Linked DNA regions of Homo sapiens: regions 1, 2, 3 and 5 are each linked to region 4. Evidence: fine-mapped expression QTL. A gene starts in region 4. Each other region holds a variant in brackets. All regions are shown on one strand. Distances are between the middles of the regions. Region 1 overlaps ZC3H18 (zinc finger CCCH-type containing 18). Region 2 overlaps ZC3H18 (zinc finger CCCH-type containing 18). Region 3 holds the start of CBFA2T3 (CBFA2/RUNX1 partner transcriptional co-repressor 3). Region 4 holds the start of CYBA (cytochrome b-245 alpha chain). Region 5 has its middle 57 kb from the start of ZNF469.

Region 1 (5,810 bases), 25 kb before region 4:
GCTGCTGCCCCACTGCCAAGGAGCCTGTCTCCTCCTGTCCTGCACACACATGAACGTGACACTCGCCTCCCGGAGGACCCGCCAGTGGATGCTGACACCTTCCACGCTCTCTGGTCTACTCTGGGCCTGTGTTTTTAGCAGATGACAGAACAGTCCAGAACTGAAGTTAAAACTGAGGCACATAAATGGAAATTCGTGGCCTTCTCCATGGGTCTGGGTGGGTCCTCAGTGGGCTTGGGCTGGTGAAGAAACACCCCCAGGCCCCTTCCGACACCTTTGTTCACTCCCCTAGGTCCCGGTCCTTCTCTTCGTCCCCGTCCCCGTCCCCAACACCTTCCCCACATAGACCTTCCATCAGAACCAAGGGAGAGCCGGCCCCGCCGCCCGGGAAAGCAGGGTGAGTGCCCAGCCTGTGGGCAAGTCCTGGCCGGCCAGGCCTCCACAGGCTGCAGCCTCCTCCCTCCGTCTCTATCTCTCATTTGTGTTTGGGACCAAAGAGGTGAGGATGCCTCAGGGGGCTGGCCCCAGGGGGTGACTGGGCTGGGAGGCACTGGGCACAGCTCCTGTTCTCACGGGCCACCCTTACACAGCAGCACTCCCTCGGGAACCCTGGGGACAGAGCACAGCCCTGGGGACACGGCAGCAGCCGGGTGTTCTTAAGGGGTCTTCCTATTAGCCTGCTCTCCCCACTGCCTGGCGGTGCCTGTAGCTCTTGCCTGTTAGAGGGGAGCCTGGAAGGGCTGCTGGGGGCTTTGAAGCCGTTCCCAAGCACTCTGACACCGATGGGTGGGGAGCCGTGTCCAGGCACGAGCGTGCTCACCGAGCGTCACAGGCATGCAGTGTCGTTCCCCGAGCTGTGGGTCCATTGAAAGGGGATGTAGGCCAGCGGGGCCCCGTCCACCAGCCCTGCCCTGCTCGAGCCTCCCTGTCTCACAGAGAGAAGTCAGTGAAGAAGCCGGCCCCGCCTCCAGCCCCACCACAGGCCACCAAAACCACTGCTCCTGTCCCCGAGCCCACCAAGCCAGGAGACCCTCGGGAAGCCAGGAGGAAGGAGCGGCCAGCCAGGACCCCCCCCAGGAGGTGAGCACTCCGGCGTCCGGGGCCCTCAGGCTTTCCGTGTTCTTGGTGCCACTGTGATGCTGGCACTGCTGGAAATCCAGAGTGCCAGGGTCCAGAGCCAGGTGGTGGGAAGCGCCCCCTAGCCGAGCAGCACCCAGTGAGCCCTTACCCGGGAACCTGCCCTGTCCCCTCCCTGAGCCTGTGTTTCTGGAGCGTGAAGGGGAAGGGACAGCGTGGCACGGAGCACAGGCCTTCCCGCCATGGCCCCGTCTGCACTGGAAGGTGCTGCCCCCGAGAGACTGTACTTTTTATCTTGACAAAACACTGAGCCTAAAGGAAGACAGGCCCAGGCCCTGTTCCAAGGTGGTAGCAAGGCCAGTCTGGAGGCTCACCTCACAGGGCTGCTGGTGGGGAGGGGAGGCCGCGAGGGGCTGTGGAGGCCACGCCCCCTGAGCCCCGCTGTTGCTTGTATTACAGGCGGACGCTAAGCGGCAGCGGCAGTGGCAGTGGTAGCAGCTATAGTGGTTCCAGCTCCCGATCCAGGTCATCCCCATCACCCTGTGCCTCTGTTTCTCCCTCCCCGTCGGGGCCAGGAAGTCCCAGAAGCAGCCAGTGTGGGTTGGGCTGTCTCCCACAGGTGGGCTGGGGCCCTTCTGGATCTGAGTCACCCTGGGGCTGTGGAAGGCTGCGGTTGAAGCTTTGACACAGGAGAAAATGGGCCAGGACTCGTGATAGGAAGACCCCCTCCCCCCACCAAAAAAAGATTCACAAACTCGGGGGCACTCAGGTCAGGAGGAGGTGCCTCTGCCCTGCTGACTTGATGCCCAGCACCCTGAGAGAGCACCTGCACCTGGGGAGGAGCCGGCAGCTTCCAGCCCAGCAGGGCAGAGGCTGGGCCTGCGTGACCTATCACACCTGTCGAGGGAACCGGCCTGAGGGGGTGGGGAAGCCGATAAAAACATCTGAGAAGAGAATACATGGAAAAGCTTTGTGGGCCAGGTGCGGCGGCTCACACCTGTGATCCCAGCACCGTGGGAGGCCAAGGCAGGAGGATTGCTTGAGCCCAGGACTTGACCAGCCTGAGCAACATAGACCCCATCTCCACAGAAAAAGATTTTTTTTTTTTTTTTTTTTTTTGAGACAGTTTCATTCTTGTTGCCCAGGCTGGAGTGCAATGGCGCGATCTCGCTACCTCCGCCTCCCGGATTCAACCTCAGCCCCCTGAGTAGCTGAGACTACAGGCGCACACTGCCACGCCCAGCTAATTTTCTGTATTTTAGTAGAGATGGGGTTTCACCATGTTGCCCAGGTTGGTCTCAAACTCCTGAGCTCAGGCATTCCACCCACCTTGGCCTCCCAAAGTGCTGGGATTACATGCGTGAGCCGCCGCACGCAGCCTAATTTTGTATTTTTAGTAGAGACTGGGTTTTACCACGTTTCTGATCTTGAACTCCTGACCTCAGGTGATCCATCCGCCTCGGCTTCCCAAAGTGCTGGGATTACAGGTGTGAGCCACTGCACCCAGCCCAGAAATTTTTTTTAATTAGCTGGGTATAGTGGTGTGTGCCTATGATCCCAGCTACTTGGGAGGTCAAGGTTGAATGAGCTGTGATCACGACATTGCATTCCAGCCTGGACAACAGAGATCCTGTCTCAAAA[C/CA]AAAAAAAAAGGATTTTTGCTATTTAGTTGTTTTAAAAGAAAGTATTAAATCAGTCCTTAGATTCCTTGCATAGAACTCTTTCATTTCCAGGCAGCAGGTCGTTTATATATTTGTCACAGTTCTTTGTTTCTTTTGTTTGTTTTGTTTCTGGAGAGACATGGTCTTGCTGTGTTGCCCAGGCTGGTCTCAAACTCCTGGGCTCAAGTGATCCTCCCACCGTGGTCTCCCAAACTCGTGGGATTATAGGCATGAGCCACCGCGCCTGGCCTAAATGTTTCTTAATAAGTCTGAAATGTTTTAAAGACCTGACTTTTGAAAAAAAAAAATGGTTCTCTTACATTCCCCCGTTCCTTGCTCCGGTACCCAATGTACCTGGAAGACGTGGTTGGTGTTTTCTCGAGCAGCATATGGGCAGGGCAGACTCAGGTGCCAGTCCTGTGTGCTTTGTGTCCGTGTTGAGTGCACGCCAGTGAAGCTACAGACCTGCTGTTTCCAGTCTGTCTGCCGTGTGTTCCTCAGGCATTCCCTGAGACTGCGGAATTGCTCCTTGTGTTTTTAATTTCCCTGTGGGCTGAGGCTATCTCCCTTTTGTCTAAGCCAGGGACTCTGCTTAAATTCCATCCTTGCCGCTGTTGAGTCAGCTCAGTCCTGTTTCCCTTCCCAAAAAGCAACCTGACATTCGTTTTGTTTTTTGTTTGTTTTGAGACGGAGTTTCACTCTTGTCGCCCAGGCTGGAGTGCGATGGCATGGTCTCGGCTCACTGCAACCTCCACCTCCCGGGTTCAAGCGATTTTTTTGCCTCAGCCTCCCCAGTAGCTGGGATTACAGGCGCCTGCGACCACGCCCGGCTAATTTTTGTATTTTTAGTAGAGATGGGGTTTTACCATGTTGGCCAAGCTGGTCCCGAACTCCTGACATCAGTTCAGCTGGGTCTCAGACCCCATTGCTCGTGACGAGATCTGCCCATCTCAGTCTCCCAGAGTGCTGGGATTACAGGCGTGAGCAGCCGTGCCTGGCTGCAACCTGACATTGATTAGTGAAATGGGGCCCTGGCCTAGCCATGGGGACGTCCCTTACTTTGTAACCCTGAAACTGCCCAGTGTCCCCCCAAAATCACACATTCCGTGGGTACATGATCCATAAATGGACACTGCGTAAAAGTGGACCATGGAGCACCCCCTGCTGGCCCCTCCCTCCAGTCTGGCTGGGGTGTGGTGAGATGTGCTTGTGTGTCCAGGTCCCTGAGCGTGAGCAGCGTCTCCTCAGTGTCCAGTGCTACGTCGAGCAGCAGCTCTGCACACAGCGTGGACTCGGAGGACATGTACGCAGACCTGGCTAGCCCCGTGTCCTCAGCCAGCTCTCGGTCCCCGGCCCCAGCCCAGACCAGGAAGGAGAAAGGTACTCAGGAGCCCTGGTACCTTTGGGGAGCAGCTCCCGGGGGAGGAGGGCGGCATCAGCACAGACTTTGCCTGGCTGTTGGTGTGGCCATGGGAAAATCACCAGTACCCCCATGACTGCGGATTTATCATTGGTAGGAAAATCTAAGAAAGAAGACGGTGTTAAAGAGGAAAAGCGGAAAAGGGATTCGTCCACACAACCACCCAAATCTGCAAAACCTCCAGCAGGGGGGAAGTCCTCCCAGCAGCCCTCGACACCCCAGCAGGCACCCCCCGGGCAGCCCCAGCAGGGCACATTTGTGGCCCACAAGGAGATCAAGTTGACACTGTTGAATAAGGTGAGGGCAAGGGCCCTCCTGGTGGCTGCCCCAGCGTCTAGGCCTGGGTCCATCTGCTTCCTGAGACAGCTTCCTCCTGGGGGACGGAGCCTGAGTGAGGGCGAGTGGGGCCTTGCAGGTGTCAGCACAGCCTGGGTAACAAAGCGAGACTCCATCTTTCCGGCCTGGGCTGGGAAGTGTGAGCATCTGGGGAGGTTTGGGTGCTGCTGGCCTCTCTCTGAACAGAGAGGGCGTTCTCTTCGTGCCTGTGGCCGCCATTCCCTGCCATGCAGTCTCAACACAATACAGGAAGCCTCCGTCCCTGTCCTCTGTCCTCAGCAGGACACATCCCTGTCCTCTGCTGGAAGGGCAAGAGGCCTGGCTTCATGGGTCCCAGGTCCTCCTAGAGTGGCCCCCGTGGGGAGCAGGAAGGCCTGCAGGGTGCTTCCCCTGGAACGTGAAGGGCCCCAAGTGCACAGTGGGGGTGCCCTTGGTCCGGGTCCTGGAGGCCTCACTCAGGGCTACGGGGTCTCATGGGTGTGTGGTGGGACCTTTGGGAGCAGAGCAGGTTGCTGGCAAGGAACCCATGTCCTCTGGGGCGAGGACACGGCTTCTGGCTCCTGGCCCTGCTGTCCTCACTGGCCTCTCTCTTGTCCCAGGCGGCTGATAAAGGAAGCAGGAAGCGCTATGAACCATCAGACAAGGACAGGCAGAGCCCTCCTCCAGCCAAGCGGCCCAACACATCCCCAGACCGAGGTGAGCCTCCCAGCCCCTAGGGGGCAGGGCAGAGGGACGGGAGCCTGGGGATGCGGAGCAGCTGGGTCTGAGACCCCATTGCTCTTAACAAGTAGGAGGAGGGTCCAGAGAACATCTGACTTGCAGATGATGCCTGTCGGTATTTAGGGTGTTGAAAACTAAAACGAAGAAAAGGTTTTAAATATTTGTTTAAAAATAACAGGACCGGGCGTGGTGGCTCACGCCTATAATCCCAGCACTTTGGGAGGCTGAGGCCGGCAGATCACTTGAGGTCAGGAGTTCCAGACCGGCCTGGCCAACCTGGTAAAACCCTGTCTCTACTAAAAATACAAAAATTAGGCCGGGCGCGGTAGCTCATGCCTGTAATCCCAGCACTTTGGGAGGCCAAGGTGGGCAGATCATCTGAGGTCAGGAGTTTGAGACCAGCCTGGCTAACATGGTGAAACCCTGTTTCTACTAAAAATACAAAAAATTAGTTGGGCGTAGTGGCGTGCGTCTGTAATCCCAGCTACTTGGGAGGCTGAGGCAGGAGAATCGCTTGAACCTGGGAGGCAGAGGTTGCAGTGAGCTGAGATTGCACCATTGCACTGCAGCTTGGGCAACAAGAGCAACTGTATTTTT
Region 2 (5,810 bases), 46 kb before region 4:
TCCTAAGTTGCTGGGAATATAGACGTTAGCCACCTGATGTTGAGTTTTGCAAATAATTGTCACATAGAAGCACCTTCATGCAGGCAGGCTTTGCTTACTACAGGATGGAGCTCTAGGCACTTCATTGTAGAACCAGTGGAATATGAGGACTTTTCGAGAAGTCTTGAGGACATAAAGGACAAGAAAATTGTTGTTCCTTCTTTTTTTTTTTTTTGAGACGGAGTCTCGCTCTGTCACCCAGGCTGGAGTGTAGTGGTGCCATCTTGGCTCACTGTAAGCTCCGCCTCCTGGGTTCACGCCATTCTCCTGCCTCAGCCTCCCGAGTAGCTGGGACTACAGGCGCCCGCCACCACGCTCAGCCAATTTTTTGTATTTTTTAGTAGAGACAGGGTTTCACCATGTTAGCCAGGAATGGCCTCAATCTCTTGACCTCGTGATCTGCCTGCCTCGGCCTCCCAAAGTGCTGGGATGACAGGCGTGAGCCACCGCACCTGGCCTGTTTTTTCTTTATATCTCTTTTGGAATTAAAAACTGACCTAGCAGGATCACTTAGTAAACATAATACTTTGTGGCCGGGCACGGTGGCTCACGCCTGTAATCCCAGCACTTTGGGAGGCCAAAGCGGACGGATTGCCTGAGCTCAAGAGTTTGAGACCAGGCTGGGCAACACGGTGAAACCCCATCTCTACTAAAATACAGAAGAAATTAGCAGGGCGTGGCAGCATGCACCTGTAATCCCAGCTACTTGGGAGGCTGAGGCAGGAGAATTGCTCGAACCTGGGAGGCGGAGGTTGCCAGTGAGCCAAGATCATGCCCCTGCACTCCAGCCTGGGCAACAGAGCGAGACTCCGTCTCTTTTTTTTTTTTTTTTTGAGACGGAGTCTGGCTCTGTCGCCCAGCGTGGAGTGCAGTGGCGCAATCTGGGCTCACTGCAAGCTCTGCCTCCTGGGTTCACGCCATTCTTCTGCCTCAGCTTACCAAGTAGCTGGGACTACAGGTGCCTGCCACCATGCCCGGCTAATTTTTTTTTTTTTTTTTGTATTTTTAGTAGAGATGGGGTTTCACCATGTTAGCCAGGTTGGTCTCGATCTCCTGACCTTGTGATCCACCGGCCTTGGCCTCCCAAAGTGCTGGGATTACAGGCGTGAGCCACCGTGCCCAGCCCCATTTCTTAAAATAATAATAATAATAATACTTTGCTAGACAGACGCACTCTGATTCGCAGCTTTAAATATTCCGTTTCTACCACCTCAAGCACTTTGTTCAGGTACCATCTGACTTATAAAACCTCACATATTGGCTGGATACAGTAGCTAGTAATGTCTATAATCCTAGTGTTTTGGGAGGTCAAGGTTGGCAGATCAGTTGAGCTCGGGAGTTGAAGACCAGTCTGGACAACATGGCAAAACCCCATCTCTACAAAATATACAAAAATTAGTTGGGCATGGTGGCACGCACCTGTAGTCCCAGCTACTCAAGAGTCTGAGGTGGGAGAATCTCTTGAGCCCGAGAGGTGGAGGTTGCAGCAAGTGAGATCGTGCCACTGCACTCCAGCCTGGGTGACTGAGTGAGACTCTTTCTCCAAAAAAAAAAAAAAAAGTTCTCACATATGTAAGACATTAAGAAATGAAATGACGGCCGGGCACAGTGGCTCACGCCTGTAATCCCAGCACTCTGGGAGGCTGAGGCAGGCAGATCACAGGGTCAGGAGATTGAGACCGTTCTGGCTAACATGGTGAAACCCCATCTCTACTAAAAATACAAAAAATTAGCCAGGCGTGGTGGCGGACACCTGTAGTCCCAGCTACTCGGGAGGCTGAGGCAGGAGAATGGCGTGAACCCAGGAGGCGGAGCTTACAGTGAGCCGAGATGGCGCCACTGCACTCCAGCCTGGGCGACAGAGCAAGACTCCATCTCAAAGAAAAAAAAAGAAATGTCATCTCTGCATAGGGCTCCTGGGGATGCTGTGCCCAGAATATTCTACAAGTCTAATAGGGACATGTGACCCAAAAGACACAAGGGCCTCTAGTGCGCACAGGACGTCACCTGTGAGAAATGCGGTCATCAGTAGTAGCCCCACCGTGAACAGAGTTTCTGATTAAATCAGAGTCAGGCTGTCAGGCCATGGCCAGGGCCATGGACTGGGCCCCTGCCAACTCCCCATACGCCCCCAGCACAGAGAGTAGTGCAGTGCCGGTGTATTAGAGGCGGAGGTGCAGGCTGCTGTTCTTTGGAGTAGGATGTCAGGCTGGGATACAGAGGAAACAGAACAGTAATTTTCAAAAAGCACACTCCCTTTCCTCAGGTAACAGGTCTACCAGATGCTGGTCCAGCACCTCCTTTGTCCCAGATGCTTAACTGAGAGAGCACAAGTGGCTTTTACCTGGGATTTGCTGGTGCCCTGTGGGGAAGCCCCCTGAGTGAGCAGGGAGGGAGGGTTGGGCTACCTGGAGAGTAAGACAGGGCCTGCTCCACATGGGTAAGCCCACAGTC[C/G]CACAGACTCAGGGCAGATGGATGTATGGGTGCCCAGGCATTGCCTGTGGCCTCTGCATGCCTTTGGGGACCTCCTCCCCTGCCTGCACTTTCAGTGGCCAGCGTTGCAACAGGAACGTGGGCAACAGGCAGGTGGGCACCAGGTCGACCATGCTGGGTTGGGGTGAGGGCAAGAGGCAGCAGGGGGCTGCGTCGCTGCTCCCTTTGTGAGCTGCCTGGGACCCTCCTTTTCACCTTGGGTCTCTGCAGCAAGCAGGGACACGTGAGCATCTGACTCCCACCCTTTGCAGAGCACAGCCTCCCTCCACCTGGGTTGAGGTCAGCACGATTTCAACCTGAATTGTGCAAATGCAAGTTGCATTTCATTGTGTAATATTGCATAACCCTTAGATTAAAAGTGAGTAGTGTTAGACATTTTAGAACTTTTTCCTAGTACTTTTTGAGATCCAGTTTCCTTGTCACTGAAATGAAATGGTTAAACAAAGTGATCTCGAAGCTCCAAACTTCTGTCTTACACGTTCTCTAATTGCTCGACTTTTCACCTGCCATGCCTCTCCCTGGGCAAGGCTGTGGGCAGAAACCACCTGCCCCTGATGGGCATGTCCAATGGTTCCCCTTAGCCAGGACCTCGGGTTCTCCTCTCCAGCGAGGAGTAGGTCCACTCCACGTGCCAGTGCTGAGTCTGACGCTGCCCAGACCTCTGGGGACGCGGGGCCTCTGGAGTGCAGATTCCACGTGTGTGCACAGGACACTGTTGGTGTTGGCTGGTTAAGTGGTGACTGCAGAACGAGGTGCGAGCCTCCCAGTTGCTGCGAGCCAGCTTTGCCCAACCTTGCTTCACCACAGAACCCTTTTCTCAAAAGGCCCATTAACATTTTGGGTTCCCTAAAACAGTTGGGGAAGAGTTTGTGCATACCATGATACTGCCCAGTAGCATTTATTTTTAAATTGAATTAAATACCTTCCAAATTCATTTCAAGAGTGTTTCAGAATTTTTCAGGATGGTGCTGAGGAGTCCGTTGTTGGCATGGTTGCAGTTCCTGGTGGCGTGTTGTGTTGACACGTTCTCTAGAACGCATGCTGCGGAGCAGATGGTTCCGAGGCAGCCACGCTGAGGAAATGCTGTGTGCCTCATTCCTATCCGCTCATCCACGACTTCCAGAAAGCCTGCAGGAAAGAGGCCTTTTCATTTTGCTTAAGTACAGTTTCCCAAAAACAAATTTGCCGGCACAGTCCTCTTGTCAGAGAACACACGCCTCACACATTTTGGGAAAGGCTTTTCTACCCTATTGGGCTTACGCAATCAGCCTCAGCCCACCGAGTAGTTGGGGGCCACAGCCATGCACCACCAGACCTGGCTGCTGATGTGTTTTTTGTAGAGACGGTGTCTCGCGTGCTGTCCAGGCTTCCTCTTCGTTTTTATGTAGCCTGATGTCATATTGCCACAGGTCTCTACAAATGTTTCCTGAGTGTTATAATTCAGTGTGATTTGAGTAGTGTGCACATTAGATTGAACGGTGTCCGACTGATGGGAACGGACTGAAGCTGTGTCCTTTGGGAGAGCCAGTTCTAGGCCATGTGGAGAGTTGAGGAGGCCTCGAGGGTGTTCGTAGCCACCCATCGCTGGAGCCACCTCAAGCCATGATGCCTCAGGTTCCCACCCAGTCTACCCGAAGCAGAGGGTTGGCTTGTGGCTGAGACATACCCTGGAGGGGCGTCCAGGGACCTCCTATTGCTAGTGTACACTTTGTTTCCTCTGCTCCACAGGAAAGGAGATGCAGAGTTGTGGGCCCCGCCAGGAGTTTAGAGCAGGCCCCCCCCAACCCTGTGCGCAGTGGGGAAGAGAGCCTGACCTTCCCAGCAGCTGGACAGTCGTCCCCTCCCTGTTCAATGAAGAATCCCCTCTGTCCCTGAGATGCCACCTCTCTGGGCGTGCCTGGGTCTGCCTCTGGACCTCCTGCCTCCTCCTTCTGGCCGCCGGTTTTCATGTGCTGCGATGGCACTGGCTTAATTATACAGGCTTTTTAGGATGTTTAATGTCTCAGAGGGCGTGTCTGGCGTGTCTTTTCATTTCCAGGGTTTTCTTGGCTGTTCTTGGGGTGCGATTTTTCATGTGAACTTGGGTGTCAGCTTGTCTGGCTCCTTAAAGAAGCTCATTGGTGTTTTTGCTGGGATTGTGTTAAATTTATCAGTCAGTGTAGGAAGGACTGACTTGTGGGCGATTCCGAGCTGCGCTCTCCCAGTGCAAGAGGCGTCTCCCCATTATTCATGCACGCTTTGTGTCAGGTTTCAAAACCCCCATTTATTCATGCACACTTTGTATCAGGCGTCTCCCCATTTATTCACACGCTTCATGTCTCTCAGGCGTCTCCCCATTTATTCACAGGCTTCATGTCACGTGTCTCCCCATTTATTCACACACGCTTCATGTCTCTCAGGCGTCTCCCCATTTATTCACACACACTTCATGTCTCTCAGGCATCTCCCCATTTATTCACACACACTTCATGTCTCTCAGGCATCTCCCCATTCACATGCTTCATGTCAGGCGTCTCCCCATTTATTCACGCACGCTTCATGTCTCTCAGGCGTCTCCCCACTTATTCACACACACTTTGTGTCTCTCAGGAATCAGCTCTGCACATTTCTGGTGAAATGTGTTGATATTTTATTCCTAAGTACTTTTTTCTTCTTTCTTGCTATTGTAAATGCGGTTTTCTCCACTCTGCCTCCTAACTGGTTATAATCTGTGTCTGTGAAGACACTGATTTCTATGTTAATTTTTTTATCCTCTGCCTTTCCAAGTTTCTTCATTGTTTGTTTGAATTGGCTTTATCAAGTCTCTGGGTTTTTCATGTATAGTATCATATCATTTTGCAAATCTGAGCTCGTTTTGCTCCTTGTTTTCGTGTTCTTGTGCCTCTAGTGGGCTCCCCTTGTCCAGTCAGGGGGTGCCTCCACACAGGGACAGGTGGTTGCGGAGACTCCTGGGGGAGCTCCTCCTATTCCCCAGTGAGTAAGGTGCTGACTTTTGTTCCAAAGTGTGTCAGTATATTTTTATCATGCTAAAGTATCACTTCCTATTTTCTTTCCTTTTTTTTTTTTCTTATTTAATTTTCAAGACGGAGTTTCACTCTTGTTGCCCAGGCCGGAGTGCAATGGCACAGTCTCGGCTCATGGCAACCTCCACCTCCTGGGTTCAAGTGATTCTCCTGCCTCAGCCTCCTGAGTAGCTGGGATTACAGGCATGTGCCACCACGCCCAACTAATTTTGTATTTTTAGTAGAGAAGGGGTTTCTCCATGTTGGTCAGGCTGC
Region 3 (5,694 bases), 320 kb after region 4:
ACATCTCCAGCCCATCTGCCTCTGCCCCACAGGGTCAGCAGAGCCTGCTGTGTGCCTCTCAGAACCTCAGTCTCTTCTTCTGTGATAGCAGTAACAGCAGCACTCCCAGGCTGGCTCCCCGACATGGAGCCCCCCAACACCATGTGGTCAACAAAAGGGGGGACAGGAGGCGGGAGGTGAGGTCTGAGGGTGCTGGGGACCTTGGGATGATGGCTGTGATGGCACTTTGCTCACAGACACAGGTCTGACAGCTACCATCCGGCCCCTTTGCAGGCACCCTTGGGGCTGCCTGTCTGTCTGTCTGTGGCCTCAGACGTCTTGTCATGCACACACTGACCTCCCTGCCTCTGGCTGGAGCCCACAGACACCCTGGCCGAGCTCTGCATGATCCACCAGCTCCAAAGCCCAGCAGACACAGGGCCTGCGGCTGAAGGAGGAGTCGGGCTGAGACCGCCCGGCTGCTCATGTCCACTCCCCCTCCCACCGCGCCCCCTTGATGGGGCACCTCCCATAACCGGGGCTGCCTGCAGCCTCTCCAGTGCCTCCCTGTGTCCCACCGCCTGGAGTGCAGAGTGAGTGGCTGGAGCTCTGGCCTAGGGTGGGCTGGGCCTTAGAAGAAGGAGGCAGAGGAAGATTTGGGAGGGAGGAGACGGCCTTGCAAAGACAGAGGTAGTGGCTGCGGCACGGCGGCCACAGCCCAGGAACACCTGGGACCAGCAGGACCTGGAGAAGGCAGGACCTGGAGGAGCACGGCCATCTGACGCCTTAGTTTCGGACTTCCAGCCTGCGGCACTGTGAGAACAGAAGCCTCTGTTGTTCTGAGCCCCCAGCCAGCTTGCAGCCCATCCTTACTGCAGCCCCAGGAGATAGAAACACCCGGGGAGGGCAATCCAGACCCAGAACATTCCAGACCCAGAACCTTCCAATGCAGAATATTCCGGACCCAGAACATTCCAAACCCAGAACATTCCGGACCCAGAACATTCTGGACCCAGGACGTTCCAGACCCACAACATTCCAGAGGACAGCTGGGCCTGGATGGCCACTTGAGGGGATGGAGGATGGAGAGTGAGTGGTGGCAAAGCCCAGCCCCAAGGGCAAGGTCGGGTAGAGGGAGCCCAGGCTGACCGCAGGCTCTGGACGTGACCCCTTTGCCAGGTGGGCTCCAGCCAGGGCTCAAGCTTCCTGCACGGATGGTGCCTTCACAGCATCTGCCCAGTCCCCATAACATCTGCCCGCCTTGCCCGGTCCCCATAACATCTCCCGCCTTGCCCGGTCCCCATAACACCCGCCCGCCTTTGCCTGCACCCCTCCACTGATAGTGCTCACCACCTCCCCGAGATCCCACGTCGTCCCTCTAAGGTGACACCAGGCAGGCCTGACTCAGTTTCTCCCCCATGGAGGTCCCAGCACATGGCACTGAAACTTCTCTGCCTCAGCCTACACTTGCCAGGTGGATTTCAAAATCTCTGTCCCTGGCACCCTCCTCGGGTGACCTGGTTCCCATCCCTCTCTCCTGAGGCAGTCAGGTCACCTTTCTGACCTCCGCCTCTTCTTCTGCAAAGTGGGCTTGGGGGGACAAGGCGGTGAGAGCCTGCACAGCTCCGAGCACACACAGCGGGCGCCTCGTAAACCCAGCACCGCAAGCACCGTCTTCAGGGGTTCCTTCTGCACCACTGGGCCCAGGGGTCAGTGAGGATCCAGACCCTCCGCGTGAGGGGGCTGGTGAAGGAGCCCAGGGAAGGGGTCCCGGCCCCCAGACGGCGGCGTGTGCTCTGTGGCCATCTTCTGATTGCTTACACCTCAGCCCCCAGGACGCTGTCAGAGGAGACGAGGGGCTGAGGTCCTCCCACCCCCTGCACAGCACACAGACGTCTCTCCTGCCCGCCACCAAACGCGCAGCAACACAGCCCTGCTCAGTACGCCTTTGGTCTAAAGACAGGAAGGTTCTTCTACTTCAGCTTTTAGAAATATTACTGTTCTCCCCAGAGTTTAAAGCCAATCGGCCTGTTTTCAGGCCTCAAAGGTTTTAGGAACTCTTGGGAGGCCTGTGTGCCTGACAGCCACACAGTGGGGCTGAGGTGCCCTCAGGTCTGTCCAGGACCCCCC[G/A]CAGTTCCCATGCCCCCCATGGCCCCCGCTCCTCCAGCCAGGCGAGGCTTGATGCCGAGGCTTTCTGGCATCACAAGGCTCCCACATCTGTCCCCTGGGGGCCTTGGGAGGCCCCTGGGGTACAGGATGAGAAGCCCCAAGTGCTGGTATTCACATGTAACTCTGCTGCCTGATGTGGCTAAGGCTGTCCCATGGGTACCCTGGAATAGGGCCGGGTGGTTGCACGGACAGAAGCCCCTAGAAGCCAGGGGCAGGACCCCGCACCCAAGTGAGACCCTGCTCCCTCCTCACATTGCAGCCCCTAAGCAGGGGCTCCCTGGGGGTGGGCACAGTGGCTGGGTACTCTGTGTTAGAGGCCACCCTGGCCCTCTGCTCCTGACCTGCAGCCATGTCAGAGGTCCACCCTGACCCTCTCTGCTCCACATCTTTAGCCATGTCAGAGGTCCACCCTGACCCTCTGCTCCTCACCTGCAGCCATGTCAGAGGCCCGCCCTGACCCTCTGTTTCATGCCTCTAGCCAGCAGCCCCTCGCATGACTCAGGCACGGGGCCACCTCTTGGCCCTAACCTCCTTCCACGGTAGACACCCCCGTCCTTCCACAGTAGACGCCCCCATCCTAACAAAGCGGCGGCTCTCCATGCGCCTCAGAGCCCGTCTCTCTCCGCGCCGGTGAGAACCTGCTCTCACGCGGGGAGCAGGTCGGAAGGGTCTGAACCATGAGGAAACTGAGGCCCAGGGAGGAAGCACCCGGCCCAAGGCCACTCAGCGCCAGGGGATAGACAGGGCCGCTCCAGAGAGGACGGGATGGCAGATGCCAGGGCCAGTGGGCTGGTGCTGCCTTGAAGGTGGCTCTGAGTCACCCATTCGGGAGAAACGAACAGTAGCACTGGCTGTGGTGAGGTCCGGCCTTTGCATTCCGGGCACCCGGGGTTGGGAAGTTCCTGCTCACATCTGGGGCCCTTGTGGGGGATGGCCCTGGGGCCCCACGGGCAGCTGCAGGTGGGAACAGCCTCAGGCAGCCGCCGCCAGGACCTGCTCAGGGAATGTGGTCTCCAGAGATGGGGACACCCCTCGGTCCCGGGTTCTGTGTGTGAGTGTCAGGGGTGCAGTCAGACCTTGGACCTGACGGCCTCAGTGAGAGCCCCGCGAGACGGGAGACTGTGAGCTCCTGAAGGTTCCGACGGCTGCTGGGAGTGTGGCCACGAGGGCCACTGGGAATCGGGGCCACCAGCCTGCAGCTGCAGCCCCCAGCGTCCGGGGATCCTTGTCCTGGGACTTCGCAGGCTCGGGTGGGGGGTATCAGCAATAGCTGGCGTCCTGCTGGACTGGACCCCTCCCCAGAGCCCGAAGCCCCCAGAAGGGCAGGCCCAGGTTCCCCGTAAACCCCCACTGCCCTGGCTGGAATCGTTCCTCGGACAGGGGCCCAGGGTTGGGTCCATTTCCTCCTCACCGGGGTCTTGGGCCAGTGCCCTCCCCTCTGGCCTCAGTTTCCTCATCCAACCTGCTGTGAGGTGTCACACCCGGAGGGCATCCCAGGAGGAGGAGGGCTCTCTTTCTAGGACCCCCCCATCACTTCCCGGCTGCGGCCCTCCCACCCCCAGGAGAACACAGCCCACCCTCCTAGACGGGGCTGAGCAGCCCGGCCTCCAGCATCTGCCTCTGGGTGGGGCTGGGGCACCTGGCTGGCACCTGCCAAACCCTCACCAGCCCACCTGCCCCAGCTGTGCAGGACCTGCCTGTGGGGTGGCCCTGTTGATATCTGAGGTGAGTCAACACGGCCATCCGTGCCGGCACTGTCAACTAAGCTGGGCAGGCCCCGCGAAGCTCTAAGGAGTCACAGCCCCGGCACCGGCTGCCGCTCTCTGCCCCCACCCCACCACCTTCCCCTCGAGCCTCTTACCTGGGCCGCCCTTCCTGGGACCCCGGGGTGCGGAGCAGCCGGCAGATGCCAGGAGGCCGCTCTCCAGCACAGGGTGCGTCTGGGACATGGAGCCACAGGTGGATCCCGAGGCTGAACTGGCTGCCCTGTCCCTCAGTCTTGAAGCCGGCATGAGGAGGGCCACCCTCAGGGGCCAACCTGGAGCCCAGGACAGGCCTCTACCAGGACTGCCTTTCCCGACCTCCTGCAGCCTTGAGGGAAAGAGGAGGGGCTGGGCCAGCTGGGGCGTCCTGGAGTTGGGCCTCTGTCCCTGGAAAGCCGAGGCCCTCCCGGCCACCAACTGGGTGTCCTCTGCCCTGGGGAGGGGGTGGGAGCCCTGGGGCTCATGTGACGCGGGGCGGGCCTGGGGCTGCAGGCTGGGGAAGGTCTCCCTGCAGCCTGCGGGTGAGGCAGCCAGCTGTGTCCCCGTGATAATGCCGGGGCCGGAGGCCTGCAGCTGCGCCCGCCACTTCCCTGACAGGAACCATCTGGGGCCCTGCCCTGCGCGGCCTTCCCTCGGGCCATTCCGGTTTGACCTTCCAACAACTTCCTCCTCCCAGGCAGCTCTGGTGACGTCCCACCCACCCTGAGCCCTACAGCGTGGCCACTGGGCATGTGTTTCCTCGGCCCCAGGGCAGGTGTGCAGGCCTGAGGGCAGCTCCATCCTGGCCCAGAGCCCTTGGCCTGTCCCGCCCACCCATCTTCCCCCCAGGGCTTGGCCCTTCCTTCAGCCTGGGGTATCTGGGGGTGTCCTCCCTCTCCGCTAGCCCTCAGTCAGCCGAGCTTTCCCCAGCACCCCTTTTAGTTTGCCCCCGCTCCAGGGGCCACCCTGCCCGTGTTCCTGTGTCTGCTGACTGTGCCCTTGAGCAAGGCGGGGCCTCTGACCAGCCTCTCCTCAGCCCCTGCTCCGGGGTTCTTGGGCACCTGACCTGTCCTCAAAGTACCTCCCGCCTGCTGGGAAGGAAACCCTCTCTCTCTGCTTGGCCTCGTGCACAGGGCTCCTGGCCCTCTGTGGAGACAGCAGGGCTCCCCCACTCTCCGGGGGTGCCTCAGAAAGACCCTCACCCCACGCCCCAGCGGCCGCCTCCGGTGAGCAGCCTGGAGTTTGCGGGGGTCGGGGGTAGGTGGCTTCTCCAGTCTGGGAAATTCCAGAAGCCACCTCAGAGCACTCTTGGGACTACTTAGACCCTAGGGAGAGTCCTAGGACCCCTTTCTAGCGGCCGTTGGGCTGAGAGAGTGAGGCACATCCCAGATGCTGGGAAAAAAAGCCACTTTCTAAAGCTCCCTGACAACTGTCAGAGGGCAGGAGCTTCCTGGGAGGGGACAGTGACCCTTCGGCCCTGCAGCCCTGGTTCGGTGGCTTTTCTGATGCCATGGCTGGAGGTTTCCCGGCCTCAGACAGGCCAGAGGTGTGGAGCCCGCAGACCCAGGGCCGGCTCACGGGCATCTGTGCTATTTTGATTTGATTTGATTTGAGTTTTAGGTCACGTTTGCACGCAGTTAATAATTCAAGCCGTGCAGGAGTAAAAGCCGACTCCTTCCCCGCAGGGTCTCCAGGTGTCCCGGGTCTCCCTGTCCCAATAGTCGAGTGTCTTTCTCGAGTTGGTGACAACAAGCTGCATGCCAGCGTGTGTGTCCAGCTTACAGTGGGGATGTGTTTGTTCCTG
Region 4 (5,810 bases):
TCGAGACGGAGTCTTGCTCTGTCACCCAGGCTGGAGTGCAGTGGCGCGATCTCGACTCACTGCTACCTCCGCCTCCAGGGTTCAAGCAATTCTCCTGCCTCAGCCTCCTGAGTAGCTGGGACTACAGGCGCCCGCCACCATGCCCAGCTAATTTTTACATTTTTATTAGAGACAGGGTTTTCACCACATTGGCCAGGCTGGTCTCGAACTCCTGACCTCAGGGAATCCGCCCGCCTTGGCCTCCCAGAGTGTTGGGATTACAGGCATGAGCCACGGCGCCTGGTCCTTCCTACTATTTTATTTCTTTTTTTTTTTTTTTTTGGAGACAGAGTCTTGCCCTGTCACCCAGGCTGGAGTTCCGTGGCGTGATCTCAGCTCACTACAACCTCCACCTCCCAGGTTGAAGCGATTCTCCTGCCTCAGCCTCCCGAGTAGCTGGGACTATGCGCGCCTGCCACCATACCCGGCTAATTTTTTGTATTTTTAGTAGAGACGGGGTTTCACTGTGTTAGCCAGGATGGTCTCGATCTCCTGACCTCGTGATCCGCCCGCCTTGGCCTCCCAAAGTGCTAGGATTACAGGTGTAGCCACCTTGCCCTGCCAGCCATTCTGTTTTTGTCTCCACATGGTCTTGTTGGAAGATTTCCTATCCTTGGTTTGAGCCCAGCTACACATTAACTCTCTGGGTTTGTCTGTCTGCGTCGGAGGAGGGGAGGGCAGTGTCCTTGAGTCTACTCAGCCAATTGTCCATGCATCTTTGGGGACCGTCCTGGTCCCGAGCCTGCCATCCGAAAGAGGGTGCAAAGCTGCCGCTGGTGCCACCAGGGAGGTCTGAGGACGTATTCTGGCACCCAGCCACATTTACAGAGCACCTGCTGTGTACAGGGGGGACTCTTTGTCAAGGCCCTGCTGTCTCCGGGCCAGCTGCCTCCTGGGGCTGCACGGTCTGGAAGGACCTCCCCAGGCAGGTGGCATTTGAATTGAGAAATAAATGAGACAGCCATGAGGCTCTGCAGAAGCAGCAGCTTGTGCCGAGGCCCTGGGGCACGCTCAGGAGATCTAGGAACAGAAAGGAAGCACGGCAGCTGGAGGAGGGGGCCGGAGAGCCGGGAGGCCAGGGCGGGCAGTGCAGGGCGTCCAGTCTGGCTCTAACTCTTCGGGCCAGGAGCCCCTGGAGGGTTTCAGCAGGAGGCCAGACTAGAGCCCAGGTCTCCTGGCTCCCAGCTGGGTGCCCTCAGTCCGTCTACTTCCTGTAGGGAGTGCGGGGCAGGCAGGGTGAGTCTCACGGGGCAGCTCTGGGGAGAGCTGTCTGAACTGACCCACCGACTTCTTGGCCGCTGACTCGAAGCAGGCGGTCACTTTCCTGGGCACAGGACAGGCTGCAGGGCCCCGTCCTCCAGCCCTCCCACCCTGAGGTCTCTGCTCCCACTCCAGCTGCCACGCACCCTCCAGACAACAGGGAGGGCGCTCAGAGCCCCAGGGGAGTGGTGGCAGCGGGCCCCTCCTCCTCACCCTCAGCCCCCAGGCCCTTCCCAGGCACTCCTCCCCCGGTGCAGGTCCTTCCTGGAGCTGCTGCAGTGGTGCCTCTGCCCTCAGACCTCGCCTGAGCCCAGCCTCACCCGTGCTGGGCCAGACACTCCCTGGCCCTGGTCCCGAGAGGGTCCATTTCCAAATGGAGTCCGCTGCCCTCACCAGAACCTCTGAGCAAATGCACAGGAGGGTGACTGGGGGCTGTGCCATCCCACCCCAAGAGCAAAGTGCCTGTGCAGCTGGGCTGGGCAGGGCCGTCACTGGGTGGTTTCGGCGCCTTGTGAAATCTCAGACCGCCTCCAGCGCAGACTCCAGATGAGAAGGGCTGAGCCCCAGGGCATGAGCCCATTCCCCACCCCAAGCCCAGGGAGAGCGACCTCCAGGCCAGCTGGCTACCGAGGGGCAGGGGAGCTTCTCCCGATGCCCAGGCCGGAGCCCCCACTCGGGGGCTTCGGGGCGGTGACCCCGGAAACCACCGGGGCTGAACCGCCTCTTCCCCTGCGCTGCAACTTCCTCCTTCGCGGAGTCGGGGGACCGAGAGAAGGGAATGGGGGAGGGGCGCCGCGCTCCGCAGGGTCTGCAAGGGAATTACTGGGGGTCTCAGAACTCCTCCTTCCAGCCCGCGGCCTGAGGGTCCCGCCCCCGTTCCCCGCACCCTCCTGGCCTGACCCCGGCCCGGCCTGGCCCGCCTGGCGCCCCACTTCCCCACCCTGTAAGTAGCCCGAGGTCCCGGCTGGGGTCTTGGGACACCCCTCCAGGCTGCAGCCTCCACCGTCCCTGACGTGCACTCACTCAGGCCGGACGCCAGCGCCTGTTCGTTGGCCCACATGGCCCACTCGATCTGCCCCATGGCGACACGAACCCGGCTGGGACACTGCTAGGCGCGCACTGCCGCCCCTGCGCTCCCGGCCGAACCCCGCCCCGCCCAGGCCCCGCCCCCAGCCCCCCAGGTGACCGCGGCTGGGCGGAGACCCGCATCTGTAGGGTGCAGGGCTGTCCCGGAGCCTTCTGCCCCCGCCCTCTCTAGCCACGCCGAGGCATAGGAGGGGCCCTGCCCGGCAGCCCCAGCCCAGGCGGGGAGTTCCTGCGCTTCCCCAGGGCTTCCCAAACTTCAGCTCTCAAACACTGACAAGTGCCCCTGCCCAATGCTCCGGACCCAACCGAGGGTCCCGTGTCAACCAGGCGTCTATTAATAGCAGGACAAGGTGTGAAGGTCGGCTTCCTGAGCAAATCGGCCTCTCCAGAGCCTTGGGGGGTGGGGGAGTCACCCCTACAGCCCGGGAACACCTCTGCACCCTGATGCTACCAAGGACAAGGGTGGCCTCCCCATGGGGACCAGAGGCCCAGCCCCCATTTCCTCCCCCTGGCTCTGGGCTGGCACAGGCGTGGCCTGGGTCAGACACTGCAGGGGGCCTCCCGTCACCAGGTCACTGAACTGTGACTGAGACTCGAGGGAGGGGACAGGATGTGTACAACTGGGAAAGCACAGAATGCAGGGACGGCCCCGTCACGTCCGGCCTGGGTACGGGAGGCAGGGGCTGGCGTGGGGGTGGTGAGCCCAGCGCCCATGGGAAGACTTTAGACCTGGGGTTGCTCCTGAGGGTCCCACCTGAGCCAATGTGGGGTTTGAGGGGAGCCCCTCTGTGGCTCTGCCCAGCCTGCCCCTCCCCCAGGCCCTCATGGGGCACACCTGGACTCCCTGACAGGTGCCAGGGTCACTCAGAGCAGGAACCCCGGGATGCTGGTTTACGAAACAGAAAAACGGCGGAGGCCGGAGGCAGCAATGCTGGTTTATTCCCCATGGCCACCGGGGCCGCACTGGTGCCCACTCCTGCCACCATTCCAGCCACACCCAGGCCGTGGGCAGCCACCCTCCGAGACACCTGGGCCGGGGGCAGGGTCTCAGCAGAAGCGCCGTGGGCAGCCACCATCCGAGGCACTTGGTGGTTTCCTGAGGCCCAAGGAGGCTGCTCCCAGCACGGTGACCCCTTCCCTGGTCCGCTGGAGGGACCACCTCCCCACTGAGCTCCTTTCTCAGAGAACTGGGCATAGCCAGAGCTGGGGTGAGAAAGCCCTTCAGCCCTGCTGCACCGAGGCTCTGCCAGTTCTCATACCCCCTCCCCATCCCATCTTGGCAAAGCGCTGGTGCAGCTTAGGGCAGCTGAAGCACTCGGCGGGGACCTCTCCTGACACCTGGGCGGCCGCAGGACTCCCTGCACTGCCCCACAGCAAGCTGCCCATGGGCCCGGGGTCAAGCCACCACCCACATGTCCCAGGAGTCCGGCCAGCCCACCACATCCGCTCCCTAGCTCCGGCGAGGCCACCCCTTCTCCAAGCGGCATGCGGTCCCTGCTGAGGCAGTCAGGCAGCTGGCTTCGGCAGGCCGTCAGGACCCAGGAGGTGGGCGCAGGGGTCATCCAGGATTTGAGGCCCTGGCCCCACCTGGGGATAGAAATCCATGTCAGGTCACCAGGAATGGCAGCGCCTCATCCTGTGCCCAGCATCTGTAGGGCCGGACACAGGAGGGTAGCGGTGTGCCCCCGCCCTTCCTGTGGGTCCTGGTCAGAAGGTAAAGCGCCTGAGTGGTGACACCCACACGCAGCTCCTGCAGGCACAGCCGCCCCTGCCAGCTGCGAGCCCCCTGCCCTGGGCACTGCTTCTGTCACAGGGGGGACAGAGAACCACAGAGCCTGGGAACAGGCAGCCCCTGAGAGGAAGGTGGCGGCAATGGCTTGGGCGGCCGTGATCACTGGATGCAAGCTTGGCCCTCGGAGCAGGTCAGAGGGCAGGAACTCCGGTCTGCTGGGGTGGTTGGGGTGGGGGGGTCCCAGGGACCCCAGCAGCCCCCACCCCAGGCGCTCCCTATTCAAGGGTCTGATACTCCCCACCTGTCTCCCTGGGAGCCTGTGTCAGACTCACCCTCCCACCCTCAGCGCAGCCCTGCTGCTCTGAGCATCACCAGTGGCCTGTAATGTCCACTTTGAGAGCAAATGAATGGACAAAGGCGTTCTGGCTTCCTGCCTGAGACACGGTAGGGACAGGGAGCCGCGCTTAGCCTTTAAGGGCCCTGGGGGCTGGGCGGGCCCCCCTGGCAGGAAAGGAAACCCCGGGGTACTGGGTGAGCCCCAGGCCTCACCTGAGTGACAATGATGTATTTGACCCCACCGGGGGTCGGCTCCATGGCCAGCGCAGCCTGAAGCTCAGCTGAGAGAGGGGCCGGCCTCACCTGCAGCCCCTTCAGAAACCTGGAAAAGCAGGGCAGGGGCACGGTGAATGCATCCGTTTCTCTAAGCGTCTACAACAGTCTACAACAGGCAAGTCCAGAGATGGGAAGTGCATTCCTGGCCGTCAGGGCTCAGGGAGGGGGAGACGGCAGGTGGCTGCTGTGGGGACAGGTTTCTTTTAGGGGTGATGAAAAAGTTAAGGAGGTGGCTTGAGGTGGTGCTCACATGACCCTGTGAATGTCCTCAACACCGCAGGATTATATGCTCTCGAATGGCTGAGACAGGAAATTTTAGGTTATGTGGTAAACAGCTATGCCCAGGCTGGACCCACATCTGGCCAAGGGTGCTGCCAAGCCCCATGGGGTAACAGCTCAGGGAAGCGCCCAATTCAAGCTGGTGCGTTCGTCACCGTGTTCTGCAGAACAGCGGAAGCCTGCAAGCCCCACCCGGAGCAGCAGCCACGAGCCTGGTGCTTCCCAGGCGGGCAGTCCTGGGGTGTGGGTCTGAGTCCACCCCACAGGGCAGGCCCCTGACCATTAGAAGGTGTTATTGCTCCCACCCGGGACAGACGCACATCCCCACACGCTTCCAGACACCCTTAAATGGGAGGCGCCTCTCACATTGAGAATAAGACACCATGAAAACACGGGAGGGAAGAAATCAACAGCCCCGGGGCGTAAGGAGGCTGGGCCAAGCTGTGCACCGAGGAGGGCGTACATGGGGGCTCTGTGGCACCCCCACAGAGCAGCGCAGGGGAAGAGGCGGTTCAGGGCCAAGCTGTGCACCGAGGAGGGCGTACATGGGGGCTCTGTGGCGCCAAGATGCAGCTGCCGGACCCCACCCAAGAAAAGACACCCAACTGCCGGGGCGGGGTCAACACCCGGCCGCCTTGACTGGCTCTAACTCGCTTCAGTAAGAAGGAAATCAGGGGCTTTGACTCCTTTCCTTCAAAATGTCGGACACTTACGCACACATCTGGGAGTGCAGGCGTGTTTCCTAAGCCACTGTTCTATAGAATAAGAGCCTGCGGGGTCCCGAGCTGCAGGGGACGCTGTC
Region 5 (5,810 bases), 330 kb before region 4:
TCTGCCACGCAGTCTGCCCCAGGCTCTGCAGAGCTCCGAGGAGGGGCCCCGGAGGCCTTGGTGGTGCAGTGCCATGCCCCTGGGAGGCTGGGGACACGTGTCCCAGGCCCTGACACCCTCGCAGGCCGCTCAGTGGATTACAGGGCCACAGACCTGTCCTGACAGGGCCACATACAGCTGCCAAGATGATGGCTGCTTACCTAGCAAACTCTAATGCCAGAAACCACCTTCTTCCTTCCCACTTCTCTGTAGCATTTGTGTTTTGATCACTTCTGACATCACTCAGCAGCAAAGGCCCCAGGACAGGCCCTGGCGAAATCTCTGTGGGGTGAGAGGGCCCTGGGCATGGGAGGGAGGCCTCACTATTGGAAATGGTCCCAAGAGCCTCAGGACCCTGTGGGAAGGCCTGGGCAGCCAGGCTTCCTCTTGGCAAAGCCAGGATCTCCCTGACCCCCACTTTCTGGTGGACAGTGTAGAGGTATTGGGGGGGCTGCCACTGAGTGGCAGAAGTGGGCAGGGGGACTCCCACACCCAGTGTTGCCCATGACCGGTAATGGCCGTGGTCCCACAGACCAGGGGCCCACTCTGCCCCTGGCACATGCCAGACCGCAGCTGTGCAGTCTCCCACTCCGTGCCCCCATCCCCCTGCAAAAGGGTGTTGTGTGTCCATCCTACAGATGGTGACAGGGAGACTCGGAGGAGGCACGTGGGGGTGCCCACCATTTCACCCCTCCCAGTTCCCTACCATGGTAGAACAATCACCCCAGAACTTAGTGGCTAAAACCAAGCAGAGTTACTTATTTTGCTCACAAATCAATGGTTGTCAGGGCCTGCGGGCAGCAGCTCACCTCAGTGACACAGGCTTCAGCTGGAGCAGCTGGGCTGGGGTGAGATCCGCCGCAAAAATGGCACACCACATGGCTGGCCAGGGGCCTGTGGTCAGCGCCTCCCCACGGGGCCTGTTCGGGGCTACTTGGGCTTCCTCACAGCATGAGGGCTGGGTCCCAAGAGGCAGGAAGTAGAGGCTGTCAGTTTCGGACCGCCAGCCCTGAAATTTTCTGAGCAATACTTCTGCAGCATTCTGTTTTGGCCAAGAAGTAAAAAGGTCCAGATTCAAAGGCAGAGACGCAGACCCCCACACACACCCCTTATGGGAGGTGGGTGGAAGGATGTGGGGGGCTGTTGTGTCACAGCTGTGCCGTCTGGGATGTTGACCTCCCCAGAGCTCTCAGGTGTGAACACACGTGTGGCCAGGCCTCAGTGCTGTCCTCTCCTATGGCTGTGATGCAGAGAGTCCCAGAACCAGGGCTCAGCCCGGGAGGGTTCTTGGCTTCACTCAGGAAAGAATTTGAAAGCCAGCTGGTGGTGGAAGGCAGGTTTACTTAAGCGGCCGTGTACAGAGAGTTGCTGCTCCTTGCAGAGCAGGGCTAACCCACAGGGAGTGCGCCAGGGTGAGTGCATAAGGGACTGTAGCTGTTTTTATACCCACTTTTAAGTATGTGCGAATTAAGGGGAAGGTTATTCAGAAATCTCTAGAAAGGGGGCGGCACCTTCCAGATGTTGCCATTGCGTTTGTAAACTGTCATGGTGCCGGTGGGTGTGTCTTATGCTGATGGGCAGAGGGGGCAGCTGGAGGAAGCTGTGTTAGTCTGTTCTTGCACTGCTATAGAGAAATACTTGATACTGGGCAATTTATAAAGAAAAGAGGGTTGGCTCACAGTTCTGTAGGCCGTACAGGAAGCATGGTAGCTTCTGCTTCTGGGGAGGCCTCAGGAAACTTACAGTCATGGTGGAAGGTGAAGGGGGATCCAGCACTTCAGCCAGTGGGAGCAGGAGGAAAAGAGAGAGGGAGGAGGTGCCCTTGGGAAATATCCTTCCAGCAGCTTCTGGTTGAGATCACATCCAGCTGCGGCATACTCAGGGTCTCAAGTCCTCACCTGCACACTCCAGGTGGTCCCGACAGCAGCTGCGACATACACAGGGCCTCAAGTCCTCACCTGCACACTCCAGGTGGTCGCGACAGCAGCTGTGACATACACAGGGCCTCAAGTCCTCACCGGCACACTCCAGGTGGTCCCTACAGGCTCCGTAAGCTGCCCGAGGTGCACCCCGGGGGGCCGCAGGGGCTCAGACCCAGGACACCCACCAGACTGCACAATTGGTGGCCAGCTTCTGGGGCAACCATCAGGGTCACAGTGGGAGAGGCACAATTTCCACCCAGAGCATCACTCTTCCCAATTCATGCCTGAAGG[C/T]GGGGCAGCCGCTGAGTACCCTGCCCAGGGGACCCGGAGGACACAGGTCAGTGATAGGCGTGGCCCCACCACTGCAGCCAGGGGCACTATGTGTGGTGGCGCCAAGCCCAGCATGGCCAGAAATGACACTGATACCCACACCAGGACACAGTGTCCCAGGGTGGTAGAGCTGGAAGGGCCTCTGCCACTTAGGGCTCCTGGTCCCATCCCTCATGCAATTTGTGGCCTGTGAGACCCCCTAAGGGAAAGTGACTTGTTCAATGTCACCCCAAAAGTCTGCAGTGGGGCCAGGACAGACAGGGCCTTGCCACTCAAATGCTCCGTGTGACGGCTACCCTGGTCCTTCCTTCCCCTCTTTCTCCTTCCTTCCTCCCTTTCCTCCTTCCTTTCTTCCACGCATCCCAGATGGGGCTGCAGGGCAGAAGGATCGGTGCTCTGCCCCCTTAGACCTGAAGGACGCCACTTCCTCTCTAGCCTCAGCTTCCTCAGCTGTACACTGTGAGCAATAGAGCTAACAACACCTGTCAGTCAGTCCAGGGGTGGCCACTGTGCCTGTGATTGCGCCCCCTCCCCACTCCCAGCCAGTGTGATCCTGTAGGCAGAGAGGAGGGGCTGCCAACCCAGAGGCCCCAGCAATGGGCCACAGACATGTCCTGGTCTCAGAGCCTTTGTGATATGGTTTGGCTGTGTCCCCACCCAAATCTCATCTTGAATTCCCACATGTTGTGGGAGGGGACCCAGTGGGAGGTAATTGAATTACGGGGGTGGCTCTTTCCATGCTGTTCTCGTGATAGTGAATAAGCCTCATGAGATCTGATGGTTTTAAAAATGAGAGTTTCTCTGCACAAACTCATTCTTTTTGCCTGCTGCCATCCATTTAAGAAGTGACCTGCTCCTCCTTACCTTCTGCCATGATTGTGAGGTCTCCCCAGCCACGTGGAACTGTAAGTCCATTAAACCTCTTTCTTTTGTAAGTTGCCCAATCTCAGGTATGTCTTTATCAGCAGCATGAAAATGGTCTAATACACTTCGAGACACTCTCCAGGGACTGCAGCTTCTGCTGCTCCTGGGCCTCGGGGACATCCAGAACCACTTTATTAAAGCACCCAAGGCCCAGGGCAGTGACACTGCTGGGCAGGACACCGCATGTTTCCCAGGGACCACCCTCCAGCCACCTCACATGGAGGTCAGGACCAGAGTGCCTGACGCAGGCACTCACATGGAGGCCTCGGGTTTGGGGTGTTTGCTTTAACGTCACTGACTCATGGGACCCCCGCTGTGAAAGCACCTTAGAGACCTTCCAGAACAATCCCAGATCAGAGGGTGACACCCAGGCCTTCCCTGGCCAGGGCAGCACTCGGGCCGGTCCTGACCCCCCCGCTCTTTCCTGACTCAGCCATGGCTGCCTTGTCTGCACTTCATTTTCTTGAAAACTGGGCAGAGTACCCAATGCCCACCTGGCAGCGGGGCCCAGGAGCAGCACCCCCACCTCTCTCGGCCTGTGTCCCTGTCTCCCTCCCCGTCGCTCTCCCTCCTGTCTGTCTGTCTTTGGTTTGAGCTGTCTCCTGGGTCAGGGCGGCCCCGCCTCTCTGATGGGCGGAGGGTCCTGATGTCCTTGGTCTGTCCTCAGCATCTGCTGTGGGACCTCAGGAGAAGCGCCACTCTGGACCCCAGGAGTGGGGCCATCCCCCATCCCAAATAGTGTCCCTCGTACTGGCACAAGGTCCAGGCCCCGGGTGGCCGCCTCTCCAGAGCCTGTGGGACCCTGTGGCCTGCACCACTGGGGCTTCTCACACCAGCCCCTGCCTCCCCGGCACTGGTTCTCTGGGTCTGCCTCTCCATCCACTCAGCCTCACGCCAGCCCCCGCCTCGCCACGCTGGTCCTCCCGGCCTCGCCTCTCCTTTGTGCAGCACCCCTGCCACCTGGCTTTGGTAGATGCACCTTCACCTGCTTCCCTGGACGAGGTGGGCTGCAGGCCACATCCTGTGAAGCGGGTAGGCAGCCCCATCCCAGGGCGTAAGCATGGTGTGGGTGCTGAAATGTTCTCATCTGCGGTTCCCAGGGCCAGCTAGGGGCCAGGCCTGTGCCATCCTCAACATATCACGTTGGGGTTGGGGGGGGGTCTGTGCTCACGGTGGGCTGCGTCACCGGCAGCAGGACAGGGCACGTGCTCCGTACCTCAGGGCTGAGTGCTTCCAGGGCCACCTCCTTGTTCCTCCCTCCTCTCCGCTCCTCCACCGCCCTCTCCCCTCCCACCTTCCGTGCACACTCACTGAGCACTGACAGGGCAGCCTGGGCTCCATGCTTAGACCCCGCACCACAGGTGTCATCCGGAAGGAGCTGGAGAGGCCGCAGTGTGGTCGGAGCTGACTAGGCCCGGCTGCTTGAGAAAACCGGCCGGATCCCGAGTTCAGCTGGGGCCCACACACCCACCGGAAACACACCCAGCAGAGCAGAAACCAGAAACGTGAGATTGTCTACCAGAAACACTTTCACGGCCGGGCTCCATCACGGCTGCACACCCACCTGCTGTCCCAGCCAATGGGGAATGCACGACCCATGCTGCTGCCCAGGCAGGAGAGCAGCAGCTCCCGGCACACACGGCGACTCCCACAGACACAGAAGGGCACACGCCATGGGAGCCACGGTCCTAAAGCTGGGATGAGGTCGAGGAATCCGCAGGTCCCAGGGAAGGAGGAGCTGCCGAGTCTGTGCTTCTCGCCCGGGGCTGCTGTGCAGGCAGACGCACGCTATGTCATGGGCCAGGCCGGACACTTCAGTCTTGGTGCTTTCTGCACGTGTACTGTATTCTGCCTTAAAGGTGTATTTAAAATGCCTGTAGAGGAACAAAATTCTCACTCTGCTGCTGACTGTGTGACCTTGGCTGAACCATATGACGGCTCCCAGCCTGCACTTCCTTACCTGTGTGATGGGAATGATAGCAGTGCCTTCTTCACAACCTCCAGGGAGGTTCCCCAGGAAAACGCCATGGCAGTTCTCAGCCGGGGCCTGGCCGCATGGCTACCGTCGAAGCTCTGCTGCTGGACCTGAAACGCCACGGCCCCAGTGCAAGACACCATCAGTGTGTGCTCTGTGGGGAAGCTGATCCGATGCACCTGGCCTGACATGGATCTTTGTGGGGTCCAGGGCCCGGGTTCTTCTCCAACGCACTGATCTCCTCCATCCCTGGCTCCCAAAATGCACCAGACAAGGAAAACCAGAAGAAATCAGATACAACCCTCAAGCGTTCCAGCCGGGGGGCTGGGATGTGCACACACAGCTGAGTGCAATGGGAGAGGGTGCGGTGTGAGCAACAGAGGCGCCCAGTCTAGGGAGGGCTGCTTCCCACACAGTGAGCACCACACAGGAACCAGAGAGGATTCCAGGTGTCCAGAGAAAACAGCTGGGGCAGGCGGGTGGGGGAGACGCAGTTTGGCCACAGCAGAGGAGGCCGAGGAGGAAGCGGAGGAGGCCGAGGAGGGAGCAGAGTCAAACCGAATCAGCAAGAAGGGTCAGGGCCCTAAATGTTCTCCACGGGGTCCCGACGTTCACCCGCA

What was found. PIP is the estimated chance that this variant, and not a neighbour inherited with it, causes the effect.
Region 1: its variant is fine-mapped to the expression of CYBA in whole blood (INTERVAL, PIP above 0.99).
Region 2: its variant is fine-mapped to the expression of CYBA in whole blood (TOPMed, PIP above 0.99).
Region 3: its variant is fine-mapped to the expression of CYBA in non-classical monocytes (Schmiedel 2018, PIP 0.95).
Region 5: its variant is fine-mapped to the expression of CYBA in monocytes after Pam3CSK4 (Quach 2016, PIP 0.95).

Annotation. Positions count from the first base shown.
Region 1 is chr16:88,623,666-88,629,475 of GRCh38, forward strand. ZC3H18 (zinc finger CCCH-type containing 18) reads left to right here. Exons shown (of 18, transcript NM_144604.4): 11 at 293-397; 12 at 937-1,080; 13 at 1,537-1,602; 14 at 3,957-4,117; 15 at 4,255-4,454; 16 at 5,093-5,189. Among named protein-coding and RNA genes, the nearest start is that of IL17C, 12 kb to the right of the region's middle. RefSeq lists enhancers at 3,929-4,645, 4,646-5,360. The variant C/CA (reference allele first, on the strand shown) is at 2,719.
Region 2 is chr16:88,602,769-88,608,578 of GRCh38, forward strand. The region is part of intron 6 of ZC3H18 (zinc finger CCCH-type containing 18); the gene reads left to right. Among named protein-coding and RNA genes, the nearest start is that of IL17C, 33 kb to the right of the region's middle. RefSeq lists an enhancer at 4,383-4,883. The variant C/G (reference allele first, on the strand shown) is at 2,494.
Region 3 is chr16:88,972,648-88,978,341 of GRCh38, forward strand. It overlaps CBFA2T3 (CBFA2/RUNX1 partner transcriptional co-repressor 3), which reads right to left and starts at 4,560. Exons shown (of 12, transcript NM_005187.6): 1 at 4,010-4,560. The coding sequence starts at 4,160. RefSeq lists enhancers at 334-403, 584-743, 2,685-3,229, 2,882-3,091, 4,932-4,981. The variant G/A (reference allele first, on the strand shown) is at 2,110.
Region 4 is chr16:88,648,634-88,654,443 of GRCh38, forward strand. It overlaps CYBA (cytochrome b-245 alpha chain), which reads right to left and starts at 2,420. Exons shown (of 6, transcript NM_000101.4): 1 at 2,323-2,420. The coding sequence starts at 2,380. It overlaps MVD (mevalonate diphosphate decarboxylase), which reads right to left. Exons shown (of 10, transcript NM_002461.3): 9 at 4,667-4,775; 10 at 3,307-3,972. The coding sequence ends at 3,892. RefSeq lists enhancers at 758-1,653, 1,654-2,547, 2,548-3,442, 2,870-3,019 and silencers at 2,030-2,179, 2,330-2,609.
Region 5 is chr16:88,323,188-88,328,997 of GRCh38, forward strand. It overlaps a transcript of ZNF469 not described here. Among named protein-coding and RNA genes, the nearest start is that of ZNF469, 57 kb to the right of the region's middle. The variant C/T (reference allele first, on the strand shown) is at 2,253.